Homo sapiens: one gene and its partners. The protein of the gene in region 1 interacts with the protein of each later gene in a pairwise test. Each region holds a gene or a part of one and is shown in the gene's direction. Other genes may lie near its edges. The genes, in order: FCHO1, SYTL4, PHLDA2 and CCDC13.

Region 1 (6,330 bases):
AGAGCCAGGCTAACAGGGTGCCACAGAGGATGGGTGAACAGGGGAGGGCCCAGGAGTCAGGGAAGGACCAGGTCAGAAAGCCCCTTCCCCAGTTGCAGGCCCTGAGCTTGCAGTGAGGAAGCCTGTTGCTAGGCGACTGGTTGCCCCTGGCAACAAGCCCCACTCCTGCCCTTGCTCCCTCCCCAGCTGGGGCTCCTCTTGAAAGCACTTGCTTTCTTAAAGGGGCCGCACTCCCTTGCCACCTGCAGGGGTGTGACCTCCGCCCTCTCTCCAAAGGTCAGACTCCCCGATTTGCCCCTGAAAGGCTGTGTGACTCCAGTGAGGGGCTACCCCTTTCTGAGCTCCTTTTAGTACTGCCGTGTAATGGAGGTGACCATTTGAGGATCAAAAGTCACCTGCATTTTGGAACCCCGACAGTGGCACCTACATTTATTTTAAATCCTTTTTAATTGTGTGAGGCGTGCAGGCTCGCTGCAGAAAATTCAGATCAGCAAAGAGAAAATAGAAACCACCCCCGACTTCCCCACCTCACCCAAAGATATCCTGGTAGAGAATGGTTAAGAGCTTTGAGTTCAGGATTCGAATTGACTCTGCTGGAAGCCCTTGAGCAAATGACTTTGCCTGCCCGAACCTCTGTTTCCCCATCTGGGAAAAAGGGATGAAATTCCTGCACCGCCACTCCCACCCCATGCACCCCACACACCCCCAGACTCAGGGAGGCCTCCTGTGACATCTGTCATCAGTTGCTAGTATTGAAGCCGCCATAGAAGCCTGGTTCTTTGCTGGGTGGTGCTGGGGAGATTAAGCCAAACAGGGATGCCCCAGTCTCATTGCGCCAGGGCAGGGCCGAAGCATGAAGTGTACTAGGGAGCCATGGGGGAAGTGTGAGCAGGAGAGGGACATAAACAAGCTCTGTTACAAAGACCACACTCTTGGCTGGGCGCAGTGGCTCATGCCTGTAATCCCAGCACTTTGGGAGGCCGAGGGAGGCGGATCACCTGAGGTCAGGAATTGGAGACCAGCCTGGCCAACATGGCAAGACCCCATCTCTACTAAAAATACAAAAATTAGCCGGGCATAGTAGCATGAGCCTGTAGTCCCAGCTACTCGAGAGGCTAAGGCAGGAGAATTGCTTGAACCCGGGAGGTGGAAGTCGCAGTGAGATCGCGCCACTGCACTCCAGCCTGGGTGATGGAGTGAGACTCCGTCTAAAAAAAAAAAAAAAAAAAAAAGACCACATTTTGGCTGGCACAGAGGCCAAGTCTGAAGTCTAGAAGTTCTGGTGGGAGAGACAGACCTGAGACAGCCCCTCCTAGGACCCTCGGCTGCCAGCCCAGTCCAAGAGAGGCAGACGCTGCTGGGGGTTTGCCAGGTCTGGGAAACGGGCCAGCAGTTGGCTCTGAGTCAGACCCAGATGCTGCTCTGGGCGGTGGTGCCTGGTGCAGCCTCACCCGAGGATCTCCTGGGGCCAGCACTGTGCCAGCCTCATCCCAGCAAGACCCTTGGGAGTTGGGTGCTGTTGTTGTCCCCATTTGTCACACAAGGAAGGAAACTGAGGCCAGAGAGACGAAGTCACCAACCCAAAGTGACCCTGTACGTATAAGGAGATTGGACACTTGAACTTTGAAAATATAATTCCAAACACAAGAAGAGAAAATATAGGTGGAGCGTGGTAGCTCACGTCTGTAATCCAAACACTTTGAGAAGCTGAGATGGCGGATCGCCTGAGCCCAGGACTTTGAGACCAGCCTGGGCAACATAGCAAGACCCCGTCTCTACTAAAAATACAAAAAATTAGCTGGGTGTGGTGGCGCGCACCTGTGGTCCCAGCTACTTGGGAGGCTGAGGTGGGAGGATCGCTTGAGCCTGGGAGGCAGAGGTTTCAGTGAGCCAAGATCATACCACTGGACTCCAGCCTGGGCGACAGAGCAAGACCCTGTCTCAAAAAAAAAAAAAAAAAAAAGCCGGGTGCGGTGGCTCACACCTGTAATCCCAGCATTTGGGAGGCCGAGGCAGGCGGATCACAAGGTCAGGAGATCGAGACCATCCTGGCTAACACAGTGAAACCCCGTCTCTACTAAAAATACAAAAAATTAGCCGGGTATGGTGGCGGGCACCTGTAGTCCCAGCTATTGAGGAGGCTGAGGCAGGAGAATGGCGTGAACCCAGGAGACAGAGCTTGCAGTGAGCCAAGATCGCATCACTGCACTCCAACCTGGGTGACAGAGTGAGACTCCGTCTCAAAAAAAAAAAAGAGAAAACGTATTCCTGGCGAGCTGGAGGGAGCAACAGTGAAGTGGGGGAGGGGGTTGAGCAGGGTTAGGGAAGTTTCTAGAGCAGGTGGCAATGATCCTTGGGAAGTGGAAGGATGTGGATGGGTGGAAGGAGATGCAAGCTGGAGAGCTGATGGCGGGAATAGCCTGGACAAAATGTGGTGGTGGAAAGGCACTGCCTGTCTTTGCTATTTGCTGTTTTGTGGGTGAGGCTAGGAAGAAGCTAGGAGATGAGGCTGGAGCAGCAATTCCAGGCCATGGACTTGGACTTCAGCATCTGGTGGGCAATAGGGACCCATTGATGATTCTAGAATGAAGTGTGACCATTGGGAGATTTGGGCTTGAGGCTGACCTGGGTCTGCCCCAGTCTTGGCTTCGGTGTCTCCATTGGTGCAGCAGGAAACGTTACCTAGCAGTGACTTCTGGCTTTAACCTTCAGGCTTCTGGCCAAGTGTGGTGACTCACGCCTGTAATCTCAGCACTTTGGGAGGCTGAGATGGGAGGATTGCTTGAGTCCAGGAGTTCGAGACCAACCTTGGTAACATAGTAAGGCCGTATCTCTACTAAAAATAAAAAAAACTAGCCAGGCCTGGTGTCACATGGCTGTGGTTCCAGCTACTTGGGAGGCTGGGGTGGGAGGATCTCTTGAGCCCAGGAATTTGAGGCTGCAGTGAGCCATGATTGTGCCGCTGCACTCCAGCTGGGGAGACAGAGCGAGACCCTGTCTCAAACATAGAAAAATATGTATAACATTCAAGCTTCCGGGTACCTGGGAGGGTGAACCTGGTAGGTTGGAGGAGGGCACAGGAAACTACCATTTATGGAAAACCCGCCAAATGCTGCCAGAGGGATGGCTTCACTGATGTGTGTTGGGACTTAAATGGCATCAGATCCCTCCACAAGCCTTCTCTTCCAGTGTTATTATAAGACCTGATTTGGTGCTAAAATGTCCCCAGTTCCCTCAGACCCCAGCTGATTACCTTTTTTTTTTTTTTGAGACAGAGTCTTGCTCTGTCAGCCAGGCTGGAGTGCAGTGGCGGGATCTCAGCTCACTGCAACCTCTGCCTCCCTGCTTCAAGCAATTCTCCCGCCTCAGCCTCCCGAGTACTTGGGACTACAGGCGCCCACTGCCACGTCTGGCTAATTTTTGTATCTTTAGTAGAGACGGGGTTTCACCATGTTGGCCAGTCTGGTCTTGAACTCTTGACCTCGAGTGATTTGCCCGCCTCAGCCTCCTGAAGTGCTGGGATTACACGCATGAGACACCACACCCATCTAGTCATTGATTTTAAAGTTGTAATGGTGAGTTTTAAGTCCAAATCTAAAGGTGTCCAATTCCAACAGCGGGCGCAGAGGACCAGGTCTCCAAGGGGTGGAGAGAAGCGGGATCAGAAGGTGTGTATGAGGCCGGGCGTGGTGGTTCACGCCTGTAATCCCAGCACTTTGGGAGGCCGAGGCAGGCAGATCAGTTGAGGTCAGGAGTTCAAGACCAGCTTGACCAACATGGTGAAACCCTGTCTATACTAAAAATACAAAAATCAGCCAGGTGTGGTGGCACACGCCTGTTAAAAAAAAAATCCTCATGTTTAATCTATATTGGTCTTGCTTTTAGCCTTTTCCTCAGTTCTATTCATATTGTTTATTATTTTTTGTTTTCTGTAGATGGTCATATAATCTGGTCTCAATTATTTTTCTTACCTTACTGCATTTGCCAACACCTCTACATCAGCATTAAATATTAGCCATGATTTGAGGCATTCCTGCCTCATCCTGAAATATGTTGTGTCTCCTGTTTTGCCATCTTTTTTTTTTTTTTTGCATTGGGGGACAGAGTCTTGCTATGTCACCCAGGCTGGAGTGCAATGGCACGATCTCAGCTCACTACAACCTCTGCCTCCCGGGTTCAAGCGATTCTCCTGCCTCAGCCTCCGAATAGCTGGGGTTATAGGCATGTGCCACCACGCCTGGCTAATTTTTGTATTTTTAGTAGAGACGGGGTTTCACCATGTTGGCCAGTCTGGTCTCGAACTCCTGACCTCAGATAATCTGCCTGCCTCGGCTTCCCAAAGTGCTGGGACTACAGGTGTGAGGCACCGCGCCCGGCCTGATTACCATTTTTAATGGACAGCTTAGTAGTGTTCAGGCATGATGCCCTTCCCAGGTGACAGAATCTGGCCGGCGTTAAGATATAGTTGTTGCCTCATTTTTTCCTACTCCTTTCATGCGGCAGAGGGTCCCAATTTTCCATTGAGAGTGGCAGAAAAAGTTGCCCTTTAACATAAATGTCTTTGGGGAAGAAGCATAAGCAAATTTAAAACAAATGCTAACTATTAATAACTAATGTTACGAATTAGCAAAAACTAGAGTGGCCTTTGGGGCTTTGGGGAGCATTGACATGGATTATCTTGCTGCTTGTATCATCTCCATGTAAGAGGCAGATGTCTCCCAGGCTGTAGTGTAGTGACATGATTTTGGCTCATTGTAACCTCCGCCTCCCGGGTTCAAGTGATTCTCCTGCCTCAGCTTCCTGAGTAGCTGGGATTACAGGCACCTGCCACCATGCTTGGCTAATTTTGCATTTTTAGTAAACACGGGGTTTCACCATTTTGGCCAGGCTGGTCTCGAACTCAAGACCTCAAGTGATCTGCCTGCCTCAGCCTCCCAAAGTGCTGGGATTACAGGGGTGAGCCACCGCGCCTAACCTCCCTGCCCCATCTTAATGAGGAGCTCCTAAAAGCTCAGAGGGGGCAGTGACTTGCCTGGGTCACACAGTGCAGCCCTGGCCTCCCCCACCATGACAACCCCAGAAATTGGAGTAAAGAGATTTTGTGAAGGCATTCGCAGGCACCAGGGTAGAAATACTCAGTTCCCAGTGGCACTAACAGGTAACAGCAGAATCATTTGTTTATTTATTCAACGAACTCAAATGCCCTTTCTGTCTCTCATTCTGTGCTGGGCTTTGGTGGGTCCTGGGAGAGAACTCAAACCTGGACCCTAATTTGGGTTCTCATAGGCGGAATTTCCATGTTGACAAGAACAGAAAACACAACTACAGTGACTTAAGCAACGGGGACTGTATTGGCTTATAAGATCAAATGATTATGGGGGAATGTGGCTTTCAGGGTTGGTTTGATCCAGCAACTCAATTTAACACACTTTTTTTTTTTTGTAGCTAGTATAAATGGGATCACTTTCTTGATTTCTTTTCAGCTATATTTTATTAATGGTGTATAGAAACGCTACTGATTTTCATGTTGATATTTGTATTTTGCAATTTAACTGAATTTGTTTATCAGTTCTAGGAGTTTTTTGGTGGTGTGTTTAGGCCTTCCTATACATAAGTTCATGTTGCAAAGAGAGACAATTTGACTTCTTTTCATGTATATACATATATATATATATATATATACACACACACTTCCCCCCCGCCCTGAGACGGAGTCTTCCTCTGTTGCCCAGAGCTGGAGTGCAATGGCGTGATCTCGGCTCACTGCAACCTCTGCCTCCCACGTTCAAGCAATTCTCCTGCCTCGGCCTCCCAAGTAGCTGGGATTACAGGGGTGCGCCACCATGCCTGGCTAATTTTTGTATTTTTAGTAGAGACAGGGTTTCTCCATGCTGGCCAGGCTGATCCCAAACTCCTGACCTCATGGTCCGCCCGCCTCAGCCTCCCAAGGTGCTAGGATTACAGGCGTGACCCACTCCAATTTATTTTTATTTTTATTTCATTCATTCATTCATTCATTCATTCATTTATTTTGAGACAGTCTTGCTCTGATACCCAGGCTGGAGTGCAGTGGTAGGATCTCAGCTCACTGCAACCTCTGCCTCCTGGGCTCAAGCAATCCTCCTGCCTCAGTCTCCCAAGTAGCTGGGATTACAGGCACGCGCCACCACGCCTGGCTAATTTTTGTATTTTTAGTAGAGACGGAGTTTTGCCATGTTGGCCAGGCTGGTCTCGAACTCCTGACCTCAAGTGAACCACCCACCTTGGCTTCTCAAAGTGTTGGGATTACGGGCGTGAGCCACCGTGCCCAGCTCAACACACTTTTTTTTT
Region 2 (7,924 bases), on another chromosome or scaffold:
CTGATTTTTGCTTTGAGATTGCATTCCTGATGCCAACTTTGACCTAGTTGGAAGTACTTCCTCTCTCTTACTTTTTTTTTTTTTTGAGGCAGAGTTTCGCTGTGTCGCCCAGGCTAGAGTACAGTGGCGCGATCTTGGCTCACTGCAAGCTCTGCCTCCTGGGTTCATGCCATTCTCCTGCCTCAGCCTCCCGAGTAGCTGGAACTACAGGCGCCCGCCACCATGCCCGGCTAGCTTTTTGTGTTTTTAGTAGAGACGGGATTTCACCGTGTTAGCCAGGATGGTCTCGATCTTCTGACCTCGTGATCTGCCCTCCTCGGCCTCCCAAAGTGCTGGGATTACAGGCGTGAGCCACCGCTCCTGGCCTCTCTATTTTTTAAAAGTATGAGTCTCTGGGTGGAAATCTCTAAAGTTTAAAAGTGGAAATGTAAAAATGTTGTGCTTCTTGTTGGTAGGAAGGGGGACTGCACTGGGAGGAAGGGGTGTGGATTGTCAGATGTCTTGAGGCTTTTCAGGCTTCTCGCAAGATCAATAAGAGGCTGGAGAAAGTTACTGTGCAATGGGGAAGTGAACAGCTCAAAAGAATAACGGATGGCACAAATTAGGCTTCTGGTTTCAAGTTACCCATAGCCTTTTAGGTATGAGGTGGTTATTGGATTATGGAACTTTATGGAAAAGCCGTAGCTGAGTGCTATTTGTGTTGTACTTAACTAGTTTTCTACCAGGATGACTGTGCAGTCTGGAGAAACCACTGTGTAACATAAAAGAAAAAAGTGCTATTCTGTTTAAAAGTGTTTTGAAATGTTCAGAAAGGAAGAGGCCAGAATCTCTTAGAAGACAGACTTGGAAGGAGTTGGGCCCTTCAAAAGGTGGTAAATATGTGATTCTCATCATTTAATATATGTTAACTTATTTGAAACTCAAATTTGTACAAAAAGCTGACCAGCTTCTTTTTCTACTAAATTTGTCTCCCCAGCCTTTGAACATTGCAGTGACCTGGGGTTCAGTCCCTGGACTTTTCTCCATCTAAAATCTTCACAGAGGCTCTCATCCAGCTGCATGGCTTTGAAGAACATCTGTCTAGACTGTTGTCACTCCCAAATTTATGTTTGTTACCCAGGCCTTTCTTCTAAGCTGCAGCCTCATATATCCAATGACCTATTTGACATCTCTGCTTGCCTATCAGATAGACCTCTCAAATGTAACGTGGCCAAAACGGCACTCCCGATTGCCCTTGTATTCCCACCCTCTTCCCTCAGCACTCCCTGTCTCAGTAAAATGTCACCATCATCCATTCAGTTGCTCAAACCAAGAACCTAAGATCACCCTTGATTCTTCTTTTTCTATCACTGCTCTCCACCCAATTTAATTCATGAGGGAGTCCTGCTGACCTGATCTTCAGACTGTATCATGTGTTCTGCCACACGTCTCCATCTCCTCTGCCTGTCACCCTAGTCCAAGCCACCACACGTCTGCCACAAACATTCTTGCATAATGCTCAAGGATATATATATACACAAGTATTTTTGTGGGATAGCTTTCTAATAGGAGAATTGTTAGGTCAAAGGACATATACATTAAACAATTTAAATAGGCATCACCAGAGTGACATCTAAGAGGGTTTACCCTTTCACCATTGCGAGTGGTTTTCCTCCTGCCCTTGCTGAGGATGGATGACGCTTTTAATTTTTTCCAATCTGATAGGTGAAAAATAGTATCTAACTGATTTAACTTGGCATTTCTCTGATCACTAGTGTGGCTGAGCATCTTTTCATTTGTGCTAGCTATTTGTATTTTTCCAAGACTTGCTCCTTTATATCCTTTGCACATTTATCTTTTGGGTTATATATTTGATTTGTTTGTAAGAACACTATATTTATTAGTTATATTTACCCATTGCCTATTATATAGTGCAAGTTTTTTTCTCTCTAGTCTGTCATATGTCATAACTTTGTTCATGATGTGTACCCCTCTCGTAATCAGATAAAACCCACTATAAAACATTTAAAAAACACGTTCATTAGATTTGGCAATTAGGAGGCCAATGACAACATCAGTGCAGCAGGAGGAGAGAAGGCAGATCGTAGAGGGTTGGGCAGTGAGGACTGAGAAGGACTGATAAAAAATATGGTAGATACACATGGACATGGAGAGTGGGATGATAGACAATGGAGACTCAGAAGGGTGAGGGGTGGGAGAAGGGTAGATGATGAGAAATTTCTTAATGGGTACAATGTATGTTATTCAGGTTATAGATACCCTAAAGTCTCTGACTTAACCACTGCATATGTAACAAAATTGCATGTGTACCCCATAAATTTATATAATTAAAAACATGTAGTATATACATTGAAGAAGCTTGGCTATGATGGGAAGGAGAGAGTGTTCCTTATAGACAGTAAGGCACAGGGGATAAAAAGGCTGTTTTATTTAATTTTGTTTTACTTTAAATATAAGAGATAGATGAGCCCATTTATGTGCAGATGGCATACAGCTTGATGATGCAAGGTCCCCGAGAAAGTCAGAGGGTGGGAGTGCCAGAGTGAAAGAGGAGAAAAGACTAGCCTTAGAGAAAAAGTGGTGGCTCTTCCATTGAAACAAGAGGATTCACCAATCCTCTTGGTAAAAACTATGGAGAAGGAAGTACCTGTGGAGGGACAGGATTTTGAGAGAGCCCCTCCGCCCCCAACAAGAGAGTGAAAGGTTCACCAGAGAGTAAAGAAGGCAAGAATGGTGAAGGGTTGGAATAGCATTTGAGAGAGACGAAAAGAGGAGTTCTTTAGGGGCATATCATCCAGGTTATGTATGTGTATTTCAAAATATCATGCTGTACACCATAAATAGACACAATTTTTGTCAAGTATACCTCCATAAAACTGGAAAAAAGTTTTAAAATGGCTTGGGTAACTTGAATTTGTCTCTGCCTCAAGTCGCAGAACCCTGTATCCATTCTGTCTGGCAGCACTCATCAGACCAGGAACAGAGTGTGGACAATCTAGTATGGGGAATTTTTTCCGGGTGGCCGTGACAGAAATAGGGAGAGGGCTGGAGATTGGATGGCCCTGGCAGAAGAATAGTTGAAATGATGGACCACTGTGGCTTTCATATTCATATCTGTGACTATCTAAACCTAACTTGACCTTGAGTAATTTTTAAGAAGTAGAAAATTTCCATGGCATCTACACTGCTTCTTGTTTGTAGCTCTATCGATTCAGGCATCAGAATACCATTAGTATCAGTGTCTTTAAACTCATCAGAAAGCGTGATTTGATTTACTGAGGGCCTATGTTGTGCCATGCTCTGTGTTGATTTACTGAGGATTTACGTTGCACCAACTGAGAGCCTACAGTCAGGATCCTACAATGTAGATTTATCCATCTATCCATCCATCAACCCAGCTAGATGCTTGAGGTATGGCTGAGAAGAAGGTAGACAATGGCCATTTTTCTCCTGGAACTTATTTCGGCAGGGGAAGTGTATATTAAATATTGTATCACATAATTTTTTAATTACAATTGTGATAAGTTCTGTGAAGTTCAGTTTTCTTAGAAATCAGATTGTCACATTGCTTTTTAACAGGCCTTACTAATTTACATTTGCCAACAAAATATGAGAATATCTCTTAAATCCTTTTTAAAAACTGAAAATTGTCTTTCTGAAATTTTGCTGAATTAATAAGCAAACATAAAAAAATCTTTATTGCCAGTAAGAGTGAAACTTTTTCTTTTTGATGTGTATTGGCCATGTGATTTTTCCCCTTTAAGAATTATCTATTCACGCTCTCTGTCTATTGGATACTTACCTCTTCTTGTTTTTAATAGATCTCTCATTCCATGTTTGAAACCATTAGCTACACTTCTCTCCTTTCTCTCTTAGCCCTGGTGACCTTAAAATATTTTCCCCTAGTCTCTACGGCCATTCCCTTTTGATCTCCTGTGAAATTTTTTTCTTACCTAGAAGTGTTGCTGTGCTTAGGGATGGGACTACATTTTTATTACTTGACTCAATAAAAGGTAACATATAAATCTTCTGTTCCTGCTTATCCCACTCTCCAGAGGTAACAATGTTAAGATTGTATTTCTTTCTAGACATTTTTCCATTCATCCATGATCCAATCTGTCTAAAATGTAAACAAATAAAAATGGAATCATAATATATATGATTTGCAATTTTTTTAATTTAATATGCTTTCAGTGTCAGTATATATAGAACTACAGTACCTTCTTCTTTTTTTTTTTTTCTTTTTTCTTTTTATTGATCATTCTTGGGTGTTTCTCGCAGAGGGGGATTTGGCAGGGTCACAGGACAATAGTGGAGGGAAGGTCAGCAGATAAACAAGTGAACAGAGGCCTCTGGTTTTCCTAGGCCAGAGGACCCTGCGGCCTTCCGCAGTGTTTGTGTCCCTGGGTACTTGAGATTAGGGAGTGGTGATGACTCTTAACGAGCATGCTGCCTTCAAGCATCTGTTTAACAAAGCACCTCTTGCACCACCCTTAATCCATTCAACCCTGAGTGGACACAGCACATGTTTCAGAGAGCACAGGGTTGGGGGCAAGGTCACAGATCAACAGGATCCCAAGGAAGAAGAATTTTTCTTAGTACAGCACAAAATGAAAAGTCTCCCATGTCTACCTCTTTCTACACAGACATGGCAACCATCCGATTTCTCAATCTTTTCCCCACCTTTCCCCCCTTTCTATTCCACAAAACCGCCATTGTCATCATGGCCCGTTCTCAATGAGCTGTTGGGTACACCTCCCAGACGGGGTGGTGGCCGGGCAGAGGGGCTCCTCACTTCCCAGTAGGGGCGGCCGGGCAGAGGCGCCCCTCACCTCCCGGATGGGGCGGCTGGCCGGGCGGGGCGCTGACCCCCCCCACCTCCCTCCTGGACGGGGCGGCTGGCCGGGCGGGGGAGCTGATGACCCCCCCACCTCCCTCCCGGACGGGGCGGCTGGCCGTGTGGGGGGCTGACCCCCCCCACCTCCCTCCCGGACGGGGCGGCTGGCCGGGCAGAGGGGCTCCTCACTTCCCAGCAGGGGCGGCCGGGCAGAGGCGCCCCTCACCTCCCGGACGGGGCGGCTGGCTGGGCGGGGGGCTGACCCCCCCCACCTCCCTCCCGGACGGGGCGGCTGGCCGGGCGGGGGGCTGACCCCCCCACCTCCCTCCCTGACGGGGCGGCTGGCCTGGCGGGGGCTGACCCCCCACCTCCCTCCCGGACAGGGTGGCTGGCCTGGCGGGGGCTGACCCCCACCTCCCTCCCGGACGGGGTGGCTGCCAGGCGGAGACGCTCCTCACTTCCCAGACGGGGTGGCTGCCGGGCGGAGGGACTCCTCACTTCTCAGACGGTGCGGCTGCCGGGCGGAGGGGCTCCTCACTTCTCAGACGGGGCGGCCGGGCAGAGACGCTCCTCACATCCCAGACGGGGCGGCAGGGCAGAGGCGCTCCCCACATCTCAGACGATGGGCGGCCGGGCAGAGACGCTCCTCACTGCCTAGATGGGATGGCGGCCGGGATGAGGCGCTCCTCACTTCCTAGATGGGATGGCGGCCAGGCAGAGACACTCCTCACTTCCCAGATGGGGTGGCGGCCGGGCAGAGGCTGCAATCTCGGCACTTTGGGAGGCCAAGGGAGGCGGCTGGGAGGTGGAGGTTGTAGTGAGCCGAGATCACGCTACTGCACTCCAGCCTGGGCACTATTGAGCACTGAGTGAACGACACTCCGTCTGCAATCCCAGCACCTCGGGAAGCCAAGGCTGGCGGATCACTCGTGGTTAGGAGCTGGAGACCAGCCCGGCCAACACAGCGAAATCCCATCTCCACCAAAAAAATACGAAAACCAGTCAGGCGTGGCGGCGCGCGCCTGCGATCGCAGGCACTCGGCAGGCTGAGGCAGGAGAATCAGGCAGGGAGGTTGCAGTGAGCCGAGATGGCAGCAGTACAGTCCAGCTTCACCTCTGCATCAGAGGGAGACCGTACCTTCTTCTTTTTAACAAAGGCACAATATTCCCTAATATGTGTGTACAATAACTAGTCAGTTTCCTTTGATGGATGTTTATGTTCTTTAATTTTTTTTTTTTTGCTGTTTCAAATATTGAGCATCCTCAGAATATATATTTGTGAATTTACTTGAATATCAGCAGAATAAGTTTCTCAAAATGAAATGGCTATGTTAAAAATATGGTCAGTGGTACTAAAGATCCAGAGAAATCTAGGAAGACCAAGAACTGTCTATTGGATTTAGGAAGTTCTTGGTGACCTTAGAGCAATTTCAGAGAACTGTGAGGCAGAAAGCTAAACTATGGTGGGTTGAGAAATGATTGGAGAGATGAGGAAGTGAAGGCAGTGATTATGTACAATTCCTTAGAGAAATCTGTCTGGCTTTGAAGAGCAGAGAAAGGGTAGTAGCAAGGAAGGAGTTGAGATTGAGGACCTGTTATTTATTTATTTATTTATTTATTTAGGAAGGACTTGAGTTCCTTTAAAGGCTGGTGGGAAGGAGGGACTAATTAATAGAGCAAAATCCTTGGAAGGCAAAGTCCTTATGCCAGATGGGAGGGGATCCAGATTGAGGTAGAGGATTATCCTCAATAGGCATAGATGAAAGTAGGTTCATAGATTTGGCGGCAGGAACTTGTCTGATGGTATTTCTATTTCTCTATGATATAATAGTTAAGGCCAACCTCTTAGAGCAGGGGTTAAGATGGGACAAGGTTTGAGTTAGATATTTGTGGTATTTGAAGAAGGTTTGAAATAGTTATTGTGGAGAACAGGAGAGCAGCCTAGGGAAGCATAGTTGCAGTGCCAGGCAGGGTTAAGATGAGCTTGGTGACCAAGAATTCATATGGATAATAATCTACCAGAGTGTGATTTTTTTTTCTCCAGTAGATCTCAGGAGTCCTTGTGCATGCATAAAGTATAACAGTTGGGCTTAGAAGAGCTATGGTTTTTTAAATCAGATATTTGCAGTGAAATTATGCATTATTGAGGATATTGACAAGAGTGCAGTTGAAACAATAGAATTGGCTGGGTGCGGTGGCTCACACCAGTAATCCCAGCACTTTGGGAGGCTGAGGCGGGTGGATCACCTGAGGTTAGGAGCTCGAGACCAGTCTGGCCAACATGGTGAAACCCCATCTCTACTAAAAATACAAAAATTAGCCGGGCATGGTGGCGCACACCTGTAATCCCAGCTACTTGGGAGGCTGAGGCAGGAGAATCGCTTGAATCCAGGAGGCAGTGGTTGCAGTGAGCCAAGATCATGCCACTGCACTCCAGCCAGAGCAATAGAGAAAAAGTCTCAGAAAAAAAAAAGAGAAAGAAACAATAAAATTTAAATGTTATTGGGAAGGAAGTAAAGATGGGAAGGAGCTGAGGAGGTGAAAGCAGAAGGGTCTATGGAAGACTGCCCCCATCCAAGAAATCTGAGAACAGGAATGGGGCTAGTTGGGGGGCTCATTGGCTGAATAGGCTAGAAGCACAGCAGGTTGTGGTCAGAGAGGGGGTGTTGAATCAGTGATATCAAAGGTGGAGAAGTCCTAGATGATAAGCTCTTGGGTGTGGCTGAATATGATATATGGTATTCTTGATGCCAGCTCATTCATTCAACAAATATTTATTTTGTGCATATTATGATCCAGGCAGTGCTCTAGGCACCAAAGGTACAGAAATGAACAAAACAAAGTCCCTTCTGTCATACAGCTTACAATCTAGTGGGGGAGATTATTTTTATAAACTAAAAGAACATCCTTATTGATGTGCTGATTCCTGTATGTGTAGCTTTATTTGTAACTAATGATAATACCAGGATCAAATATTTACATATATGGGGGCTAAGAAGGTCCATCTAGGCATTTTGAGTATCTTGCTTTATCTCAAGTTATACTTACTGAATTATGAAAACTCATACCTCTTTTCCCCTTAGAACT
Region 3 (7,346 bases), on another chromosome or scaffold:
ACAGGGCAGCCAGTGTCCCAGGCCAGATGTTTGGGCACCCAGACTGTACAATGCCTGCCCAGGGGTGGGGGCCCTTGGCTCAGGCTCTGCATGAATCCTGGATGTGGCCCCTCAGATAAATATCAGTAAACCCGGTTTGGACTGATGCTGCCTGACACCACCAACTCGAGGCAGAGCCCCCTCCCCATCCTGAGAAGCAGTCACAGAACATCAGGGCTGTTTCCTGCCCCGAGCCACAGGGTGCCACAGAATCGGGGAAGCTGTGGATGTGGCCGCACTGGCCACTGTGTAACCTGGGTGAGTCACCACCTCTCTGAAACCCCCACCCAGTGTTCCCTGCAAACCCAAGAAAGCAGTCTCAACAGGGAGAAATGACCGCACAGAACTAGCACGGGGCAGGGCCACACGGACTCTCCTGCCGGTGCCTGGCCCTGGCATCTCTCCGGCAGGTGGTTCCTCCGCCTCCAGCACGTGAGTGGTCCAGAACCCTCGTAGAAGCAGGTCCCATGGGGTGTGGCCGAATCCACGCCGGGTTCCAATCTCTGTGCTGTGCTGGAGAAGCTCCCAGGCTCTTGGCTATCAAATGGCTCTAGGAGGGGCATTCCTCAAAAGACCCTCATGTGGGGTCCCTGTGTCAGCACTCTTCTGCCTCAACATCCCTCCCCCACATCCCAGGAAGTGAGTGTCACAGCCCTCATCCTCCAGAGGGGACCCTCAGGCAGGCCTGCTCTGGGGGATAGAGATAGGGTCCCTCCTTGGAAAGGTGACCTTGACAAGTCACTGCACCTCTCTGAGCCACCCTTTCTGCATCTGCAGCTTGGGGCCAGTGCTTCTCCTGGGGGCACCGCTCAGCCCCAGGTGGGACCAGGTGAGGCGGTGAGGCTCAGGCCTCAGGCAAGGGAGGCCGAGCGGGGGCTGGCAGAGGGCGGGTGGCTCAGAGGGGCAGACGGCAGTGTGAGTTAGTGGTGGTGGTAAAGCCCCTCGGGTGGATGGTGGACGCAGAGAGGATGGGGCAGCCCCTGTGTGCAAGTACCTGCCAAGTTGGCATGGTGTCCTCCAAGCCCCTCTCACCTCCTAAGGCCGTGGTTTATTTTTGCCCATGTCCATAAAGACACCCTGGGGGCTCCTGAAGTCACCTGCTGGTCCAGGGCTGGTAAGGCTTGGGAGTCGGCTCCCTCCAGCCCCCACATTGGCAACCAGGTTCAGGCTGGTTTGGCCGAGCAGGGGCCCAGGGTGTCTAGCAGCTGCTGGGGAGGCCAGGGCCACTACAACTGAGCCCCTGGGGCAGGGACTGTGGGCAGAGAAGCTGCCTGGGGAGGCCTGGCCTCCAGGGCTCAGACCTGATTTCCAGCAGCCCCTAAAGGGCCATCCACCCCCATACCCCCCAGGTCTTCACAGTGTCCATGAGGGGAATAGCAGAGAGGGGCTGAGTGGGCAGGAAATCCCCTAGGGAGGGCAGGGCCTCTGAATCTCGGCTGCACACCCTGCCCCCTGGCCTCCCAGCTCCTGCCCCACCTGTCAGAGCATCACCCCTGGGTTGTAAGTCCTGCCCCCAGGGGAGTGAGTTTCCCAGCCTCCCTTGAGAGGGCCACTGGGGTACAGGCAAAGAGAGGAGCTGGGCGGGGCTGGGGGAGCACACCTCACCTGGCCTCACCTGGTTTCCAAACCCTCTTCCTCCCCCTCATTTCTCTCAGCCCCTTATCTGCTCCTGCCTGTTCTCTGTCCCTTCCCCAAGGCCCTCTCCATCCTGAACCAGTTTCCTCTTCTGTGGAACAGGGGCTGGAGTGCCCACTTTGGGGAGTTCTCTGGGTTAGGTGGAGGCTGGGCACAGTGGTGGCATACGGGCACCACTGGCCCTTCAAGGTCTCCTTGGAATCTTCGAGGGCACGCCCTCCCCACAGAGTCCTCCAAGCTGTCCTCCTGGCCTCCAGTACCCCCGACCCCTATCCCCATCCTCATGTACCTGCTGTGCCCCTGGGGTTTAGAGGGATTCCTCTCCCCTCCTCTGGGGTCCCAGCACCAGCCAGGCCTGCAGGCACACAGTAGGTGCTTAAGCAACCACGAGTGTCGGGGGATTTGCCTGGAGCCGAAGTTCCACTGGCTGGCCCCTCAATGGGGTAGGCAGGCTGGTGGGCCTGGAGGTGTTCCAGGCACCTGTGGGCTGGCGCAGTGACAGAGCGCTCTGCCCCCGGCCGCTTCTCCTGGTCTCCCACTGCCCAGAGGTGCCTCTTGCCCAGGTCCCACTGTCCGGCAGCCCAGGGCCCTCTGGAAGCAAAAGAAGGGACACCAGAGTCCGAATCCTTCCTGCAGCCTCTCCGGAACAATGCTCGAATCCCCTCTCCCCGCCAAAGGCTGACCTCCCCTCACCCACCCACCCTACCTGCTGCTCCCTCACCACAGGATCCCAGCCCTGCTGCAAGGACAGGTGTCAGGTAGGGGGCAGTGTTGACCCGCCGGCCCCAGGCAGGTGTCTCACTCCCAGGCCAGAACCCTGGCACAGCCCAACCCTGCCCTCTGCCGGCACTGCCCCTCCACACCACATCCCTGCCCACTGCCAGGTCCTCTGGCCACACCGGTGGGACCACCGGGCAGCTGCTACCTGCATGCCATTCACAGAACCGGGTCTGGGGCGCTCCTCTGAGCCGGACGTCTCTTTATCCTTTACAGTGACCCTGAAGGGCAGGTGGAGGTAGGGCTGGTCCCAGGTCTGGGTTTTACGCTCTGCTGCCACTGTCTTGACATTTTAAATACATTTTGAATCAGGGGACTCTCGTTTTCATTTTGCGTGAGCCCCGTCATTGAGGCCAATTCTGACCCCAGAGTTGGGACTTCCTGCTGTAACCACCCCAGGGCGCAGCTAGGGGGCAGGGGTGCGGGAAGGTGGGAGACGTGGAGTAGTAGCCGGGGTCTCTGGGGTCCTCTCGGCCGGCTCCACCCCCACCCCTGGGAACCCGGGAAGAGCCGGCTTTCGCTTCCTGTCTATTAAACCCTTTAAAGGAAGAGGGTAAATAAAACCGCCCGTCTGCCCAGCTGGAAAGCGATGACTCAGCCGCCCCCGCCGACCCTCGCCCCCAGGCTGATCCCAGAGAGCGGGCGTCGCGGCCCAGCCCGAACCCCTCAGCTCCTGGGACCTCTCTCCGGTCCGGGTCGTGGGGGCGCGGTCGGAGCAGTCCGTACCCCAGTTCGGGACACTACGAGGGCGCAGGGAGGAGAACGGGCTTCCTCTTCCCCTTCCATTTTCTGAGCTCTATGGGTTGCTGGTCTAGCCCTTTCCACGTGTTCCCTAATCCAGCAAAGGTTACTGTTCCCATTTCACAGAAGCGAAAACCGAGGCTAAGAGAGGTGGTCGTTCTTGGCGCAGCCCGTGGGTGGCAAGATAGGAGCTCGGTCCGCTAGGGCAGGGCCACTTTCGGAGAGGGTCTCTGGGCGGCCCTGGGAAAGGCCCCCGAACAGGACGGAACGGCCAGGGCTCGGGAGTAAGGAAGGGGGCCTCGACCCTCCTTCTGCCCCGGGAGCCCGAGAGCGGCAGGGCTGGACTTGGGGCGCCTGGAGGGTGAAGGTCTGGTCCCGGCTGTCTCCCCACGGTGGGCCGGCCCCGGGCCCGCGGGTGCTTCCCGGGGCTCCCCGGCGTGAGTCATCGCGGGCAGGGCTGGCTGCAGCGCATTCTTCCGCGGGGCCGGCCTGCGAGACGGTGCGGGCGAGCGCCCGGGCGGGGCGGGACCTCGAGTCACCCCACGGGGCCGGACAGCTGGGGCACGGGGGGCAAGAGGAGCGCGGGCTTCTGAGATGGGAGGGGACGGCCGGGGACCGACCAGAGCGCGGACGCGACGGTGCGGGCCCGGACGGCTGGGCTTGGGGAGGGTATGGCCCGGGGCGCGCGGGGCTCAGGCGGGCGGGGTGGCCCGAGGGCCGGGGCGGGGCGGGGAGGGGCGGGGCGGGGAGGGGCAGCTATAAAGGCCGCGCCGGGGCCACGAGGAGCAGAGCCGGCGCCGTCACCGCCCGCATTGCCGCTCCCAGTCCCGCGCTCGGCACGACATGAAATCCCCCGACGAGGTGCTACGCGAGGGCGAGTTGGAGAAGCGCAGCGACAGCCTCTTCCAGCTATGGAAGAAGAAGCGCGGGGTGCTCACCTCCGACCGCCTGAGCCTGTTCCCCGCCAGCCCCCGCGCGCGCCCCAAGGAGCTGCGCTTCCACTCCATCCTCAAGGTGGACTGCGTGGAGCGCACGGGCAAGTACGTGTACTTCACCATCGTCACCACCGACCACAAGGAGATCGACTTCCGCTGCGCGGGCGAGAGCTGCTGGAACGCGGCCATCGCGCTGGCGCTCATCGATTTCCAGAACCGCCGCGCCCTGCAGGACTTTCGCAGCCGCCAGGAACGCACCGCACCCGCCGCACCCGCCGAGGACGCCGTGGCTGCCGCGGCCGCCGCACCCTCCGAGCCCTCGGAGCCCTCCAGGCCATCCCCGCAGCCCAAACCCCGCACGCCATGAGCCCGCCGCGGTGAGTGACTGCCCGCGTCCCGGCGAGCCCTGCGCCCTAACAGCCGGGACCGGGGCCTTTGGGAAAAACCACTTCAACCCCAGACGGCGGGGCGGGGGCGCTGCACCTCCTTGGGGGACCCGGCGCCCCGCAATCGCGCTGGCCCCCTCGCGTCAGGGTCTCGGGGCCCCTCAGGCTGGACCCGGACCGGCCCTGGCACAGCTCTCTGACCCAGTCCTTTCCCCACAGGGCCATACGCTGGACGAGTCGGACCGAGGCTAGGACGTGGCCGGCGCTCTCCAGCCCTGCAGCAGAAGAACTTCCCGTGCGCGCGGATCCTCGCTCCGTTGCACGGGCGCCTTAAGTTATTGGACTATCTAATATCTATGTATTTATTTCGCTGGTTCTTTGTAGTCACATATTTTATAGTCTTAATATCTTGTTTTTGCATCACTGTGCCCATTGCAAATAAATCACTTGGCCAGTTTGCTTTTCTACCATCCGGCTGTGGCTCAGTGAGACTCCTGCTGGGAGGGTGGAGGCCCAGGAATGGGCGGGCAGGACACCCTCATCCAGTCCTGCGGGGCTGGTGTGAAAGGCGCTGGGAACCGGCTTTGAATGAATAAATGAATCGTGTCATCTGCTGGGCCTGGTCCACACCCTCTTTTCCAAGCAGCCTCCCCAGAGGCCAGGAAGTGCCCTGGGGCTTGACCCTGGCTACCTTCTGCTCCTTGGTGTGTCCTGAGGAATTGAACCTGGGGAGGACAAGGGCCCTGGGTCCGAGCTGCTGCTGCCTGTGGTGGGGGAACCTTCCCCAGCAGCACTTCCTGCCCACAAACCACCCGCGCAGTCAGACCAGAAGGAATCCCTCAGCCCTCTGGCTGCCCGCCGCCAGCCGCTCCTTGCCAGTGCCCGCAGTGTGGGGCGGGCAGGGTCGCCTTTGCTTCTGGGGGAACAGGAGAGAGTTCTGGGCTGTCTCCGATGGTGGGGCAGGAGGCAGAGGTCCCTGCACCTCCAGGTACTGGCCCAGGACATTGGGGTGGAGAGGCCTGAGTGCAGCAAATCCCTGCCCCTCTTTCTGAGATAGCTGACCACGGCTTTCTGCCCTCCGGTCTGGCTGTGCTCTTTGAAAGACAGGGATGGTCTGAGACAGTTAGGGTTCAGGAAGTGTGTCCCCCACCCAGAAGGGCTCCTGGTGATGAACAAGCTGAGGAGGTGATAAGGGGTACAGGCATGACTCCTCACCCCACAATGGGGCCTTCATTTCTGGAACCTTCGTGGTTGGAGGGATGCCAGTAGGGGAGGCAGAGAAGTACCAGAATTGGACCCTAATCTCTGTTGCTAGGAGGCCGACGAAGCCTGGTAGCTGGTCTGGGCTCAGGGCGGGGAGGGTGCTATCCCTTCGCTGCATGGCCCGCAGGAGTCTTGGTGCTAGGTCCAGAAGAAACTATTGCCTGCAAGGAAGTTTCTCCCGAACGCAATTTGTGAAGCCCCTGTGCAGATCGGGGAGGGGCTCCTGCAAAAAGCAGAAAACAGCAGCCAAGGACGCTGCCTGGCTGGGCTCCTGGGCCTCCTGGCTGGCCCACCAGAGCCTCACCTGGATGGATATCCAAGGTCAAGAGGAGAGCCCTTGCCCCTGGGTGCTTCAAGCATAGGCATGATCCGGCCTGAGCTTTAGGCGAAGAGGGTGGATGGCCCTTGGCTCACTGAGGCCACTTCTTGTTTGAGGAATTTTGGAATTCCTCAAATTCTGAGGACAGTGGAATTCTAAGGTTTGGGGAGTCCATGTTTCAACAGCTTCTTTTAAAAGCAGCCCGAGGAGAGGAGGGGCGGCCTTCATGGTCTCAGGGGCAGCTGCAGACCCTCGCTGAGGCTGTGGAAAGCCTGTCCTCTCCAGATGGGTCAATCGGTCACAGCGGCTGGGCTGGCCTCCTCATGCCCAGTTCTCCTCCCCAGAGCCCAGGACCAGGGGGTGGGGGTGAGGGGTCGGGAAGTGCTGTGGTCAGGAGGCTGGGAAGGCAACGGTACATGGCCTGGCCAGCAAATCAGCTATAGAAGGGACCCCCAGTTCCCAGGCCATGGATGGGTACTGGTCCATAGCCTGTTAGTAGCTGGGCCGCACAGCAGGAGGTGAGCAGCGGGGCAAGCATGACCGCCTGAATTCCACCTCTCGCCAGATCAGCGGCAGCAGTAGATTCTCACAGGGACGAGAACCTTGTTGTGAACTGTGCACAAGAGGGATCAAGGTTGAGCACTCCCCATGAGAATCTAATACCAGATGATCTGGGGTGAAACAGTTTCATCTGGCCCACCCACATCCGTGGAAAAATTGCCTTCCATAAAACTGGTCCCTGGTGCGGAAAATGTTGGGGGCCACTGAGCTGTAGGATGAAGAGGCTGAGATAAGGGGACACCAGAGGAGTTCTGGGGTTCATGTGGCTGGCAGTGTCTGGTGCGGTTCTGGGGTTCGGGTGGCTGGCAGTGTCTGGTGCAGTTCTGGGATTCGGGTGGCTGGCAGTGTCTGGTACGGTTCTGGGGTTCGGGTGGCTGGCAGTGTCTGGTACGGTTCTGGGGTTCGGGTGGCTGGCAGTGTCTGGTACGGTTCTGGGGTTCGGGTGGCTGGCAGTGTCTGGTGCGGTTCTGGGGTTCGGGTGGCTGGCAGTGTCTGGTGCGGTTCTGGGGTTCGGGTGGCTGGCAGTGTCTGGTGCGGTTCTGGGGTTCGGGTGGCTGGCACTGTCTGGTGCGGTTCTGGGGTTCGGGTGGCTGGCAGTGTCTGGTGCGGTTCTGGGGTTCGGGTGGCTGGCACTGTCTGGTGCGGTTCTGGGGTTCGGGTGGCTGGCAGTGTCTGGTGCGGTTCTGGGGT
Region 4 (7,924 bases), on another chromosome or scaffold:
GGCTGAGTATTCTTCAGGGCCTTTCCTGGCTTCAGGGGACACTGCTAAGCTGCCCCTGGTTTATTCCACGCATTGAGCACCTCCACATTCCGAACTAGGGCTGCCCTGGATAGGAAACTGCTTGTTCAGCCTGATGGGATTTTCTAAGCCCTGTGGCACAGAGAATCAAAAATAGAGCCTTGACCGGGTGAGGTGGCTCATGCCCGTAATCCCAGCACTTTGGGAGGCTGAGGCTGATGGATCACTTGAGGCCAGGAGTTCGAGACCAGCCTGGCCAACATGGTGAAACACCATCTCTAGTAAAAATACAACAATTAGCCAGGCATGGTGGCGAACGCCTGTAATCCCAGCTACTCAGGAGGCTGAGGCATGAGAATCGCTTGAACCTGGGAGGCAGAGGTTGCAGTGAGCTGAGATAGCGCCACTGCACTCCAGCCTGGGTGACAGAGTGAGACTGTGTCTCAAAACAAACAAACAAACAACTACAACAACCACCAAAAAAACAGAGGCTCTGTCTATGGAGAATCCCAGAGGAGGAATGAGAAGTCATTCGAAGGCAGGATGTGGACAGGGCCTTCAGAGATGGCCCCGGTGCTCTAAGCTCACAGGGGAGTCCACCCTCCATTAAGGTTGCAGCTGGAAGGTGGGACGGAGGAGGGCGTCCCTGAGCTGGCCTTACTGGAGAAGGAAGATGGGGAAGGTGAACTGAGTGTCAGCTGGATAACATTTGACTGCAGCCCAGAGCTCACACGGGAGAAAAGGGGAACGAAAGCCAAAAAAGCTGGGGTGAAGTCACCCATAGAGGGAGCCCTTGAATGGCAGCTGGAGCAGGAGTTTTGACTTTATTCTGTGGCCACAGGGAGCCTGGGAGGTTCCAGGTTCTGAGAGAAGAGTGTGTGATGGGCCGCAGGTCTCAATTCATCAGCACCACGTGTTCTCCCTGGCATCTCCTGATCAGAGCGAGAGCAAAAGCAATGTTTCCCCTCATAGGCTGCTCAGGGCGGCCCAAGCCCGAGCCACACTCCAGAGGCCTGCAGGCTCAATCCACATTCCAACCCTAGGCCTCCAAAGCACATTCCAGAGTGGAGCTGAACACCCTTCCCTCTGCTTGGGGCTTCAGGAGGCCGTGATGTGAGTAGCGTTGGCATCATCTGCTCCCCATGTACTGCGCTTTAGTTATTTTCTCAAAGAAAACAGCCTCGGGTAGGGGAGGGAGCGTACCCATACCCAGGTCCCCCACAAAGCCTGTGGAATTTCACTCTGGGAAGAAAGAACTCTGAAATGGCTTAGAGGTAGGATTAGCTCAACTGCCTAAGCTAGGAGGACGGGGCCTGATCCAGCCCTCTCCAGAACACCATCTAGCCCTCAGCCCACTTGTCAGCTGCCCACTCAAGCCAGGCTAGGCCTGCCAGCATTGCCCTCCATCAGGACCTGCCCCAGACAGCACCCTTGACATGCGTTGTCCTAGCAACCCTCTCAGGTTCCCTGGAGATTGGCATTACATATCCCCATTTTACAGATGAGAAAATGAGGCTTGGACAGGGCATCACTGCCCAGGTTCTAGAGCCAGATCCAATCTGTATGCTTTTTCCATGCTCTGAGCAGATCAAAGAGATGCTGCAGGGTCACTGCAGCCATATGGAAGCACATGTACTCCCACAGCTCTCAGCACCCCCACTGTCAGGGCCACTGGGGCTCATGGCGCTAGAGATCTGACAGGCAGGGCGGGGCGTGGCAGGGGGTGGAGGGGTGTTGCTTCCCAACCCAGGGCAGATTCAAAGCCACACATTCAACAGGAGAAGAGGCAGGCACCCAACAGAGTATGCAGGGATGGCAGGCGGCCAGACAGGAGGAAGAACACAGAAGAAAATATACTTTAAAAAAAAGGATGGCCGGGCACGGTGGCTCACATCTGTAATCCCAGCACTTTGGGAGGCCAAGGCAGGTGGATCACCTGAGGTCTGGAGTTCAAGACCAGCCTGGCTAACATGGTGAAACCCCATCTCTACTAAAAAATATACAAAAATTAGCCAGGCATGGTGGTGGGCACCTGTAATCCCAGCTACTCGGGAGGCTGAGGCAGGAGAATCGCTTCAACCCGGGGGGGCGGAGGTTGCAGTGAGCTGAGATTATGTTTCATATAAGTTCCGAGTTGGCACATTCTGTTCACGTTGGCTGTTCTCTTTAGCCTGATGGTGGTGCTCTGAGGAAGCGGAGCAGGAAAGTATTTGTATACTCATTCCATAGATGAGGACACTGGATGAGGCCAGAGTTTCTGGACCAGGTGTTCATGTCTAGTTTCTTTGGCCAGTGGTTTTCAGCTGGGCTGCCCAGAGCCTCTGGGGTCCATGGAACTTCCCGGACCCAGTATACTTGGATCTGTCTTTCACACTAGCATTCAGAGGAGATTTTGTTTGTGCCTGCTAGAGAAAGGTCAGAAAGCCACTGTAGTACCAGCCCTGCTTCCTGAAGTTCAGCTGCTTTGCCCTGTTGGGGCAGCAGCAGAGGGCCTCAGCGTCATTGCCTGATGGGATGCTCAGCCTGACAACCAACGTTCCTGTGGCCACAATGCCCAGCATTAACAGCAGCTTAAATTGGAAGAGTCAGCCAGGGCAGGGGAAGGACAAGTATTCTTTCTCATCCCACCTGTGTCACCCCAACCAGCTGTATGCCTGAAGGCAAATTACCTCCCCTCTCTGGGCCTTATTTTCATCATTATGGAAGGGGTTTAAATGGGCTGACCTTGAAGGTCCCTTTGTCAAATATCTATGAGTCACAGGAGTGTCTATTGAAGACAGAGAAGTAGTCAGCCCATTTAAGAAAAATTTCCATCCAGATAGTTTAAATAAAACATTGGGTTAAAAAAAAAAAAGACATTGCTAAGAGTTTCAGCAGGCAGTTTTCATGGTTGCTGTAGTTCTTCAAGCCACAGAGATGAGCATTTGGAAATTAAAATGGGTCCTTATTTCTATTCAGTGGTCACTGCTAGGAAAGAGAGCCCAAGGCCCCTCAGCTGTCAAAAGACCAAGGCCCAAGCTGACGATTCTGGGAGAGGCAGATCCTGAATTAGGATGCCATGGCTCTCCTGCCACGCTGGGCTTGCCTTCGGGGAATAACGTGGTTTCCTCTTTATTCTGAGTGAAGATGGATTAGCTGTGATGCCAGTCTCTGAGCACAGCAGTGGGTCCACACCCAGGAAGTGTCTGGGAGGCGTGGAGCCTGCCGCTTCCTCCAGATGCTTCACCTCTAGGGTAAGGCATACACCCACATGTGTGTGTGCAACACTCTGCAAAAAGCTCAGTCCCAAAGTTAAGCTGCCAGGATTCAAATCCAGGTTCCACCTTTATTAACCAGGTAGCTCAAGTAGAGGACTTACCTTCCACCACCCTCCATTTTGCATCTATAAGGGGCTTACAAGAGAACCTACCTCACAGGGGTTTATGAGGATTAAATGAGTTCTTCCATGTCAAACACTTAGCACAGTGCCTGGCACAGACTTGGATAAATGGGGGCTATGATTACTATTCCCATGTAGGCAATAAATGACTACTTTCTCTCCTGTCCTTCCCAACCAGCTGGAGACCCCAGAGGTGAAGGCCCTGCAGGACAGGCTGGTGGCCACCAACTTGAAGATGAGTGACCTCCGAAACCAGATCCAGTCTGTGAAGCAGGAGCTGCGGATGGCACAGAAGGTCTTTCAGAGCCAGGGCTTGGGGCTTCTTGTGTGGCTGGGGCTGGACTTGGGAAGAGCACGGCTGGCACAGTGGATTCCTTTCTGGAGCCATGAGTGCTCAGTCCCTTGAGCACACTGCTTGCTCTGGGTCAGGCTCCAGTTCCAGTCCTTCCTCCCACCAGCCCTTGGTCCATAACCATTTGGTGGGCAGAGTCGCTGGCTACCTGAGCCTGCCACCCCCACCCCCGCAGCATACCTGCCCTTGTGGTGCCTGCCCAGCTCTAGACTGAGGAGGACAGCACTGTCCACCCAGGGAGAGTCCATTAAGCCTTCCCTGCACTACTTGTGCCCCAGTAGATCCTGGGTCTCCCCTTAATGTCACCCTTACTTAACTTGAAAGCCTGCCAACACCTGCCTTCTTCTCTGCTATCTGTAACAGAAAATGAATAGGTTACTTGTGTATTAAAGGACCCTTTCAAAGGAAAATGCTCAGACTTGGGACACAGGCCCAGCTGGTTCGTTATTTATTTTTATTTACATAGCGAATTCTCTGGCATTTGTCTTCCCTGCTGGAACCACTCAGACTGGCCAAGATTTCCAAAACAGTGTTCTATTGTGGAAACAAGTGCCAGAGACTTGGTACGCTGGATCGGGTTTCTGTGACAGGCTTCAGAGGGGCCCAGGTCACAAGCTGGAGCGTATTGTTTCTGCCTCAAAGCCTTGAGGTTGGGCCTGAGTGCTGCACTTCAACAACCGCAAAGCTGGGTCCTTCTTGGACCACAGCACCCCAACTGACATTCAGTAGCCCACCTTTTGCTGCACTCAGAGGTCCACTTGTCCGTGGGTTTTCACAAAGGCTAGGGTCCTGTGGTGATGTACTTCCTATAGCCAGAATTAGCTCAGCACTAGGTGACAGGTGAGTGGGTTAAGGAAGCAGGAGTTGGTCAGCTTTGTGGTTCAGTCATCCCAGAATATGTCAAGAGCAAGGGGCCCTATCTGGGCATTGCTGGCAGTTTCTTGGCTGCTCTAAGCATTGCCAAGAAATGCCAGGGATGATGGGTTTACTACTTTCCCAGGGAGAGCTGCCCTTGGGACATGGAAAACTGACCTTTGAGGGCTATGCTCTGAGATGGGAAGAAGATCGTGTAGGTGAAGACTGCTTCTGAATATGCTTCTAAATACGTAGCAGCATCAGGGTCTGGTGGAGCCCTCTCTTTTGGCCACATTGAAGGCCCTGCCTTATTTCAGGTTTTGGCCAGAGAGGTTGGGGAAGACATCAACGTTCAGCAGCTCCTATCTTCGCCAGGGACCTGGAGGGGTCGGGCTCAACAAATTCTTGTTTTGCAGAGCAAGGTGAGTGAGTCATCAGACTTCTCCTGGCCTGAACAAAGGATTTAAAACACCCCAGAAAGAGCTGCCCTGACCCCCTTAGAGACCTAAGCACACAGTACCCAAAAAAGGCCTTTAGGTCTCACAGTGCACTCGTGCGGGGTTGTTGTTTTACCTTCTCGCCAACCAGCCTGATTTTAATTTGTTATTTAATGAACAAGCTCTTATATAACACTTAGCACATGCCAGGCACTGGAGCTTAACAAATGCCAACGCCTTTGGTTTGATTTATTTTACTCCAGGCATCTTTTTTTTTTCTTAGTTTATGTAGATTTGCGTGACTGTTGTAATTGTAAGCTTTTTCCAGTTTTGTCCAGATGCTTGTAGTCTTTTGAAAGTTTAATTACCCAATAAAAATTTAGCCTTGTCTCCCTCTTTATTGTCTGAATATTTTGGAGCATACCAAAAGCAGCTAACAGCAGGGGCTCTGGAGCCACACTGCTCAGATTCAAATCCCAGCTCTCCACTCACCAGCTGTGTGACCTTAAGCAAGTTCCTTTAGCTCTGTGCCTCAGTTTCCTCATCTGTATAATGGGGATAATAACGATGCCTACCCCACAGGATTGTTGGGAGAATTGAGTCAATACTTGTAAAATGCTCAGCACAGGGCCTGGCATGGAGGAAGCACTGTATAAAAGTTAGGTGTGGTTCTTTTCCCTTTGTCCCTTCAAACTGAGAAACATGTGAGAAGGTGTATGACTTCCACCATTTGCCAAGCATATCACCCTTGTTCCCAGGGACTTCGAGGGTCACAGTGGCTTTTATCTTCAGTGTCTCCCATGGGATCCTTGAAGCCAATATAAAGGGGGAAAAACTCCAAGAAGCTAATAGATGATAGTGCATGGCCTTGGGGTTCAAGAGACCTGAGTTTACGTTTGGCCACCGGTCTGCCAACTCTGACCTTGGGCAAACCCCTTCATCTTCCTATGTCTTCATCTTCACACCTGTGAAATGGGGTAACATAAAATAACATTTGTAAAGCACCTAGGACAGTGCCTGACCATAATAAGCACAAAACAACTTACTTCTTATTGTCATTAAGTTACATGTCAAATTCTTTTTTTTTTTTTTTTTTTTTTTTTGAGACGGAGTCTCGCTCTATCACCCAGGCTGGAGTGCAGTGGTGCGATCTCGGCTCACTGCAAGCTCCGCCTCCCGGGTTCACGCCATTCTCCTGCCTCAGCCTCCTGAGTAGCTGAGACTACATTTGCCCGCCACCACGCCCGGCTAATTTTTTGTATTTTTAGTAGAGACGAGGTTTCACTGTGTTAGCCAGGATGGTCTCGATCTCCTGACCTCGTGATCCGCCCACCTCGGCTTGCCAAAGTGCTGGGATTACAGGCATGAGCCACCACGCCCGGCCCTGTATGTCAAATTCTTAAAGGTAACAGTATTCTTTAATGATTAAATGGAATTGCCTCACAGCGCCACACGAGGGCACTGGTGGGTGCCTTCAAAGCTGTGCTCCTGCCCTTTGCCAGGGAGCCTAGCGAATTGTGCTTCCTTTCCTGGCTCAAGTTTACCAACATTGTTTTGTCATTTGGTTGTGTTGATAGGGAAACCAGGGTCAGAAGGACCCTAGGAGTTGTCTGCTTCTACCCTAGCGTTATAAGGGTGATAAGGGCATTGTTCTGTGGGATGACATCTACCTGCCACTTGCTGAAGGCCCACATGTGCCAGGCTGTGTTGACAGCTTCACCTAGACCATCTTGGGATTTTGCAAAGTTACCTAATCCTAAAAATAACCTGTAGCATTTAAAATGCAGATTCCATGTCCCTTCCGCTAGAACTGTAGTTTGTTGATCTGGAGTAAGCACCAAGATTTCAGTCCAAGAAGAACCTCAGAGGATTCCCAGGCTCAGACAACTTCACAATACTGAATCCTCATAACAGTGTTACGCAGGGCAGTGTTACTCTTAGGCCCATCTTACAGATGAGGGAACTGAGATTCAGAGAGTTACCTGTGCGCAGTCACACAATCTGTGAGGCTTTGAGGCAGTCTGTTTCCAAACCCTGCCTTCCCCTCTTCAGTATCTCCTGTAAGTGACTGCCATCTTCCGAGAAGCCCACCCAGTCTTAGGTGGTCTGTCTGTTAGAAAGTTCCTCCTTGCCCAGCACTTTGGGAGGCTGAGGTGGGCAGATCTCTCGAGCCCAGGAGTTCAAGTTCAAGACCAGCCTGGGCAACATGGTGAAACCCCGTCTCTACCAAATTTTATATATATATATATTTATATTTATATATTTATGTGTGTGTGTGTATATGTGTATATATATATGTGTGTGTGTATATATATATATAAAATTATCCAGGCACAGTTGCCTGTGCCTGTGGTCCCAGCTGCTTAGGAGGCTGAGCTGGGAGGATTGCTTGAGCCCGGGAGGCAGAGGTTACAGTGAGCCATGATTGCACCACTGCACTCCAGTCGGGGCAACAGAGCAAGACCCTGTCTCTAAAATAAATAAATAAATAAATAAATAAATAAATAAATAAATAAATAAATATTCTTTCTTGAACTGAGACCTGCCATCCTATCCATCCCTGGTTCCTGGGGCCATAGGTCTGCTTTCCAGCCTCAAACAGCCCCTCAGAGATAGGGTGATTTTTCTCATTCACCATTTTTCTAAGCTGAACTTTCCTGGTGTCTTCCAATGTGTTGCTCAAGATGCCAGCTCAGATTGTCCCCCACCCCTAGTCCTCCTCAGATGGGGCTACCACAGCCATCTAGAGAGGTGGTTCCATCTTCAGTCTGTGGGGTCTCCTATCACACTTCTGAGTAGAAGAGGCTGGCAGAAGACCCATTGTGGAACGACGAGTTTTACCATCCTCAGGTTCAAGAGCTTGAGAAGCAATTGGGCCAGGCC

What was found.
Region 2: the proteins of FCHO1 (region 1) and SYTL4 interact in a two-hybrid assay, tested with the Homo sapiens proteins (one large-scale study listed by BioGRID).
Region 3: the proteins of FCHO1 (region 1) and PHLDA2 interact in a two-hybrid assay, tested with the Homo sapiens proteins (one large-scale study listed by BioGRID).
Region 4: the proteins of FCHO1 (region 1) and CCDC13 interact in a two-hybrid assay, tested with the Homo sapiens proteins (one large-scale study listed by BioGRID).

The regions. Positions count from the first base shown.
Region 1 is NC_000019.10:17,755,973-17,762,302, forward strand, and holds part of FCHO1 (F-BAR domain only protein 1), read left to right. Parts: intron 1-6,330. UniProt on the Homo sapiens protein: Functions in an early step of clathrin-mediated endocytosis. Has both a membrane binding/bending activity and the ability to recruit proteins essential to the formation of functional clathrin-coated pits.
Region 2 is NC_000023.11:100,721,198-100,729,121, reverse strand, and holds part of SYTL4 (synaptotagmin-like protein 4), read left to right. Parts: intron 1-7,924. UniProt on the Homo sapiens protein: Modulates exocytosis of dense-core granules and secretion of hormones in the pancreas and the pituitary. Interacts with vesicles containing negatively charged phospholipids in a Ca(2+)-independent manner.
Region 3 is NC_000011.10:2,926,054-2,933,399, reverse strand, and holds PHLDA2 (pleckstrin homology-like domain family A member 2), read left to right. Parts: upstream 1-3,979; 5' UTR 3,980-4,035; coding exon 4,036-4,494; 3' UTR 4,495-4,504; intron 4,505-4,732; 3' UTR 4,733-5,127; downstream 5,128-7,346. UniProt on the Homo sapiens protein: Plays a role in regulating placenta growth. May act via its PH domain that competes with other PH domain-containing proteins, thereby preventing their binding to membrane lipids.
Region 4 is NC_000003.12:42,743,025-42,750,948, reverse strand, and holds part of CCDC13 (coiled-coil domain-containing protein 13), read left to right. Parts: intron 1-433; exon of another isoform or gene 434-1,131; intron 1,132-3,575; coding exon 3,576-3,692; intron 3,693-4,921; coding exon 4,922-5,026; intron 5,027-5,790; exon of another isoform or gene 5,791-6,006; intron 6,007-7,882; exon of another isoform or gene 7,883-7,891; coding exon 7,892-7,924. UniProt on the Homo sapiens protein: Required for primary cilia formation and promotes the localization of the ciliopathy protein BBS4 to both centriolar satellites and cilia.